Linked DNA regions of Homo sapiens. The gene in region 2 interacts genetically with the main gene of each other region. Each region holds a gene or a part of one and is shown on either strand. Other genes may lie near its edges.

Region 1 (3,826 bases), on a different chromosome or scaffold from region 2:
AAAAAAAAAAAAATGTTGATTGAGCGGCTGAATGAACAAATGTGCAGTGTGCTCTCTTCTGAGGGTCAAAATGCGATGGTTTTCAACAGCAGAACGCCAGTAGCCTCAGGGGGTCTATAAACACCTGATTCAGACTTAATTAAAGTTATACATGTACATGTATATATACCCGCAAACACTCTTTTTTATTATTTTCTACTTTAACTTTTAAGTTCACAGGCACATGTGCAGGTTTGTTGTATCAATAAACTCATGTCATGGGGGTTTGTTGTACAGGTTATTTCATCACCTGCGTATTAAGCCTAGTATCCATTAGTTATTTTTCCCGATCCCCTCCCTCCTCCCACCCTCCACCCTCTGACGGGCCCCAGTGTGTGTGTTCCCCTCTATGTGTCCATGTGTTCTCATCATTCAGCTCCCACTTATAAGTGAAAACATGTGGTATTTGTTTTTCTGTTCCTGCATTAGTTTGCTTAGGATAATGGCCTACAGCTCCATCCATGTTCCTGCAAAGGACATGATCTCATTCTTTTTTAGAGCTGCATAATATTCCATGGTGTATATGTACCACATTTTCTTTATCCAGTCTACCATTGATGGGCATTTAGGTGGATTCCATGTCTTTGCTATTATGAGTAGGCTGCAATGAACATACACATGCATGTGACTTTATAATAGAATGATTTATATTCCTTTGGGTATATACCCAGTAATGGGATTGCTGGGTTGAATGGTATTTCCATTTTTAGGTCTTTGAGGATCCCCACACTGTCTTCCACAATGGTTGAACTAATTTATACTCCCACCAACAGTGTATAAGTGTTCCTTTTTCTCCACGACCTCACCAGCATCTGTTATTTTTTGACTTTTTGACTAAAGAAGCAAACAAAGGTATTTTATGTGCCACTTTTCAATATGCCAGAAGCTACAAATGAATTAACTTGAGTTCTCATGAACTTTGTTATGTAAATGTCATAAATTCGAATTTTTAAATTTCTAGTAATGAAACATACTTTCATCTAGTTCAGACATGGAGATCCACATTAGATTTTTTTTAAGGTTCATCTCTCTCTCACAGACACAGCAGACATACACACGCACATGCAAACACACTTATTTTTAAATTATGGATCATCCTTCTAGTTTTGTTAATTTTATTCCCATTTTGCTCTCAGACATTTATTTTAGATTCAAAACCTGTACAAATTTCATGGCTACACAAATTATTTCACGTGCCTAAAGGAGGCAACAGAAATTTAACCTAGTTTGAGGATGTACAATTGTGAAAGTTGTCAGAATCAAAATGGAGCTGCCAATGTTAACAAAACGCTGACATTAGAGCAGGAGGAGGCCATGAAGAGAGGATTCTCACACTTGTGTGCCTGATAAAAAAGAGACTCGACGAAAACCACAAAGGCCATTGCAATCTGTTTTTTTTTTCCCTGTCACCAGGCTGGAGTGCGGTGGCGCAATCTCGGCTCACTGCAACCTCCGCCTCCTGGGTTCAAGTCATTTTCCTCCCTCAGCCTCCCGAGTAGCTGGGATTACAGGCGCCCGCCACCGTGCCCAGCTAATTTTTGTATTTTTAGTAGAGACAGGGTTTCACCATGTTGGCCAGGATGGTCTTGATCTCTTGACCTCGTGATCCACCTGCCTCGGCCTCCCAAAGTGCTGGGATTACAGGCATGAGCCACCGCGCCCGGCCAGGCCATTGCAATCTTACACAAAAAATACTTCTGCAAGGACATCCGCCCAGTGACTATCTGTCCAACCTTAGACAAGCGTCAGTCTTGTTATTAATCTTTGAAGCCAAGGATAATTATTTCAAAAAGACTATGGAATCCTCACTTACAAACCTCTGTCTTCCTTTATCTCCCTAGATACCCACATAGTTTACAATGGCACGTGTATTCCCATTGCAAAGCCCTGTTCCCAAATCAATCTCTTTTCTTTCAAGAGAGCCCCTCTCTGTTTGTTATTTAAGTTGACACTATCTTGAAGGTCAAATCAACGAGCTCTGTGGGAAGAGAGGTAGTGTCAATTTCCAGAACATTCCACCAGCTAGGACTCTGAGGGGAGCTTACCTTGCCTGCCCCAAACAAGTGGCAGCCCTTGACAGCTTCAAAAATGTTGGGTGAGATGTCGGGCTGGGCAGGCAGGTGGGACTGGGCCAGGGACTGTTTCACTTTCTTCACGTCCACAAGACACAGTGCCCGCTCTTCTCCTGAACAGGAAAAGGAACAACCTCTCGTCAGTGTGAAGCCGTTAAGTAAAGGTACGGGATGGTGGTTCTAGTTCTAGTCACAAGTAAAAGTCACAAGAGGCCACACAGATGATCTGAGTTTTCCACAAATCCATATAAACACATTTTAGGTCCATGATTTATTTATTTTTTTTTTTTAAATTTTTGAGACAGAGTCTTGCTCTGTTGCCCACACTGGAGTGCAATGGTACAATCTCGGCTCACTAAAACCTCTGCCTCCTGGGTTCAAGCAATTCTCCTGCCTCAGCCTCCTGAGTAGCTGGGATTACAGGTGCATGCTACCACGCCTGGCTAATTTTTTTTTGTATTTTTAGTAGAGATGGGGTTTCGCCATGTTGGTCAGGCTGGTCTCAAACTCCTGACCTTGTGATCTGCCCGCCTCAGCCTCCCAAAGTGCTGAGATTACAGGCGTGAGCCACCACGCCCGGCCCAAGTCCATGATTTAAATCTAAGACAATAACATTTGGCCTTTTAGTCAAGATTCTGAGGAGGGTGGAATTCTGCAGACATAAAATTGGAGAATGTGAACTGTACTTTCAAACATGCTCCCCAGCAAAGTAAAGAACGAATGTGTGAGGGAGGAATGAGGAGGCATTCTATGAAAAAACAGACTTGGACTATCCAAATATGTGGATGTCAGGAGAGACAAAAGGCTGAGGAACCGTTCAGATTAAAGGAGACTAGAGAGACATGATTAAATGCAATGCAAATTCTGGGACATTATAGAAGCCACAGGTAAAATCCAATTATGGGCAGCATAGCGGATACTTGTATTATAGTAAGGGTAAATTTCCTAAATGCAGAAATTATAGTATGTGAAACTATTCTATATGATACTCTATGTGTGGATACATGTCATTATATGTTTTTCAAAACCCATAGAATGTATACCACCAAGAAAGAACTCTATAATGTAAACTGTAGACTTGGGGTGACAATGATGTGTCACTGTCAATGTGTCAATGTAGGTTCACTGACTCTAACGAACGTATCACTCTGGTGGGGGATGTTGGTAGTGGGGGAGGCTATGCATATATGAGAACGGGGGTATATGGGAACTCTCTGTACCTTTCAATTTTGCTGTGAATCTAAAACTGCTCTAAAGAATAAAATAAGGAAGAGAGGAAGAGACGGAGGAAAAAGAGCTGAGATTAAGAAAGGCCAGTTCTTGTCCATAGTATGTCAGTCCCCGGATCCAGCCATGCCTGAAACAAGACCTAACTGTTGTTGTTTTGAACACTGAATCGATATATTACTCTTTTCCCCTTTAAAAATAATGTCACTAACACAGACAGAGAGAAATAAACTGTACCCTGGTTATGTGACAGAATGTCTTCAATCCTTAGGTTGATATACTGAAGAACTTGGCGTCATACCTGCAACTAACTCTCAAATGGTTCAGGAAAGAGAGAGAGAGAGAGAGAGAGAGAGTGTGTGTGTGTGTGTGTGTGTGTGTGTGTGTGTGTGTGTGTGTGTGTGTTAAGAAGACAGAGAAAAAAATTATGACAAAATATTAGCAAATGGTGACTTGAGAGAGATCACAGAGTTAACAGAGCAAGCAAG
Region 2 (3,826 bases):
CCTCAATAATTTTTTTTAAAAATATGACAGAAATTGGGAGACGTATAAATAATATATCTTATAAGAGACTTGTATCAGAATATATAAAGATCCAGAATAAAACACAAATAACCCAATTTTAAAATGGGCAAAAAATTTGAACAGACATTTCATCAAAGAAGATATATGAATGGCCAATAAGCACATGAAAAGATGCTCAATGTCACTAGATAATAGGGAAATACAATTTAAAACCACTATGAAATACCACTTCGGAATCACTGGAATGGCTAAAAAAACAGACAACAACATGTGTTGACAAGGAGGTGGAGAATTTGAAACCCTAGTACACTGCTGGTGGAAGGTAAAATGGTACACCCACTCTGGAAAACAGTTTTACAGTTTCCTAAGAAACTGATGGGAGCATACATTGTCAATCACTTACCACTGGAGGGGAAGGAAAGCCTTAAAATCTTGTTTCTAGCTCTCCTATCAAAATCTGACACTAAGAAAATGGGCTTCTTTTATGGTGTCAAGACAGCAAATAAAAACATCACTGTTTACTAACCTGGTCAGCTCCTAGCTGGGTGGAACCATCAGTATACATCACAGTTATCACCAGGGCTGCTGCCTGTTTGAGCATTTCAATCAGCTGGCTTTTTGCCCAATCATCCAAATGCCTAATATCACAAAAATGTTTTTTCAATGCTCCTGAGTTCCCAGAATTTAGGTAGCCTTCGGCGTCATCAGTATCTTCTTCCAATGCCATTTGTTTACTTGTTTTCTCTGACAAATTATTATATGTAATATGTTTTCTTTTAAGATTAATGCTTCCTTTATTTTCATTATTTATATTCTCCATTAGGAAATGCTTTCTTTTATGCCCCTTTTTCTGTAGAACTGAAGCCTCTTGATTATACTGTGGAATTAAACAACTTGAAAGAGTCAATGAGCTGATGCTCTTCTGTTTTTGGTCAGCAGACAGCTGATCTGTGAGCCTGACACTGAAGGACTGAGGAGACAGCTTGGCAGAACCTCTTGATGTCTGACTTCTTAAAGATTTAAGATCCTACAGAAAAATGGAAAATATTTCATTAGAATATGGACTCATAAGACAGATCTATAAACTAAACTAATTTCTGGTAAAAACTTGTCTAAGGTAATATGGAGACACAATCTTCATATTACCTATGATCAAACCTTCTAAGGAAACCCTATAGTGTCTTCTAGAGCAGTGATTTTTCTCAACCAAGGTAGGCATGCATATCTGGATCAAGAGCTCAAAAACCAGCCAGGCGTGGTGGCTCACGCCTGTAATCCCAGCACTTTGGGAGGCCGAGGTGGGTGGATCACTTGAGGTCAGGAATTCGAGATGAGTCTGGCCAACATGGTGAAACTTCATCTTACTAAAAATACAAAAATTAGCTGGCATGGTGGCAGGCGCTTGTAATTCCAGCTACTCGGGAGGCTGAGGCAGGAGAATCACTTGAATTCAGGAGGTGGAGGCTGAAGTGAGCTGGGATTGCACCATTGCACTCCAGCTTGGGTGACAAGAGCGAAACTCTGTCTCGAAAAAAAAGCTCAAAAGCCTCCAACTGGCCCCTGTTCTGGGAATCAGTGCATGTAATGAGACATGTCATGGATAGGATTATGTTGCATATGTGCATAAGAGAGAAGATTAATAATTTACAACTTCCAAGTAAAAGCCATTTGCAGAGAAAAATGAAATCACCAAAACTATTTAACAATATGTTAATCTATCTACTGAAAAAATGTTTTTGGGCCAGGTGCAGTGGCTCACACCTGTAATCCCAATACTTTGGGAGGCTGAGGCTGGCGGATCACAAGGTCAACAGTTCGAGACCATCCTGACCAACATGGAGAAACCTCGTCTCTACTAAGAATACAAAAATTAGTTGGGCATGGTGGAGCATGCCTGTAATCCCAGCTACTCAGGAGGCTGAGGCAGAGAATCGCTTGAACCTGGAAGGTGGAGGTTGCAGTGAGCTGAGATCATGCCATTGCACTCCAGCTTGGGCGACAGAGCAAGACTCCGTCTCAGAAAAAAAAAAAAAAAAAAAAATTAAACCCAGCTCAATAGCAGTTCTCTCATTCCATCAATGTGCAATATGCATTCATAGATCCACAAACTAATCAAGGTGGGGAAAGCAATCCTATCCATTTCATTATAGGACTTATTTACGATAACACTTTATTTTTAAGGTTTCTTTCCTTTTCCTTTTTTTTTTTTTTTTTTTTTTGAGACAGGGTCTTGTTCTGTTGCCCAGGCTGAAGTGCAGTGGCACAATCTCAGCTCACTGCAACTTCCATGTCCCCGGCTCAAGTAATCCTCCCACCTCAGCCTCCCATGTAGCTGTGACTACAGGGGTTCACCACCATATCCAGCGAATTTTTCTATTTTTAGTAGAGATGGGGTTTCACCATGTTCCCCAGGCAGGTCTCAAACTCCTGGACTCAAGCAATCTGCCCGCCTTGGCCTCCCAAAGTGCTGGGATTACAGGTGTGAGCCAACATACCCAGCCAAGGCTTATTTTCAAATTTACTTTATATATATATATAAATTTACTTTATATATATATATATATGGCTTTGAATAACTATATTAACATTACCTTTAAAATAATTTTGAAAGAAAATGTTTTAACACTTGGTCACATGTTATGAAAATTTTAAATTTATACTTGTATTTTTATTGCAGAGAAATATATGGTTTCCAAGAGTAGGCTTTCAAGCATAAAATTACATTAAAAATTCCATGGAGGAGTAAACAAGAAAAGGAATTCAAGGAGAAAAAGAAAAATATAAAATTTCAAACTGTTGAAGATCTTACTCTGTCTTTTTTAAGGGGATGATTGTGGGCTGGGCACAGTGGCTCATACCTGTAATCCTGGCACTTTGGGAGGCTGAGGCAGGAGGACTGCTTGAGCCCAGGAGTTCAAGACCAGCCTGGGCAAAATAGCAAAACCCTGTCCTTTTACAAAGAATACAAAAATTAGCTGGGCATGGTGTCATGTGCCTACGGTCCCAGCTACTCAGGAGGCTGAGGTGGGAGGATCACCTGAGCCCAGGAGGTCAAGGCTACAGTGAGCCGTGGTCACACCACACTGCACTTCAGCCTGTGCGACAGAGTGAGAAAGTCTCAAAATAATAATAATAATAATAATAATAATAATAATAATAATAATAATAATAAAAAAAAGAGGCCGGGCATGGTGGCTCACGCCTGTAATCCCACTATTTTGGGAGGCCCGGGCAGATGGATCACGAGGTCAGGAGTTCAAGACCAGCCTGGCCAATATGGTGAAAACCTGTCTGTACTAAAAATAAAAAAATTAGCCGGGCATGATGGCATGCACCTGTAACCCCAGCTGCTTGGGAGGCTGAGGCAGGAGAATCGCTTAAACCCAGGAGACGGAGGTTGCAGTGAGCCGAGATCGCGCCACTGCACTCCTGCCTTGGTGACAGAGACTCCATCTCAAAACATAATAAATAAATAAATAAATAAATAAATAAATAAATAAATAAAATAGTCCAGGCACGGTGGCTCATGCCTTTAATCCCAACATTTTGGGGGGCTGAGGCAGGCAGATCACCAGAGGTCAGGAGTTCGAGACTAGCCTGGCCAACATGGTGAAACCCCATCTCTATTAAAAACACAAAAATTAGCTGGGTGTGGTGGTGGGCACCTGTAATCCCAGCTACTCAGAGGCTGAGGCAGGAGAATCGCTTAACCCAGGAGGCGGAGGTTGCAGTGAGCCGAGATCACACCACTGCACTCCAGTGCAGGTGACAGAGCGAGACTCCGTCTCCAAATAATAATAATAAT

The links.
Region 1: changes in POLN (region 2) and CIT together harm fitness less than expected from each alone (positive genetic interaction), as found in Homo sapiens cells (one large-scale study listed by BioGRID).

Annotation. Positions count from the first base shown.
Region 1 is NC_000012.12:119,706,095-119,709,920, forward strand, and holds part of CIT (citron Rho-interacting kinase), read right to left. Parts: intron 2,225-3,826; coding exon 2,085-2,224; intron 1-2,084. UniProt on the Homo sapiens protein: Plays a role in cytokinesis. Required for KIF14 localization to the central spindle and midbody. Putative RHO/RAC effector that binds to the GTP-bound forms of RHO and RAC1. It probably binds p21 with a tighter specificity in vivo.
Region 2 is NC_000004.12:2,207,440-2,211,265, forward strand, and holds part of POLN (DNA polymerase nu), read right to left. Parts: intron 1,049-3,826; coding exon 548-1,048; intron 1-547. UniProt on the Homo sapiens protein: DNA polymerase with very low fidelity that catalyzes considerable misincorporation by inserting dTTP opposite a G template, and dGTP opposite a T template. Is the least accurate of the DNA polymerase A family (i.e. POLG, POLN and POLQ).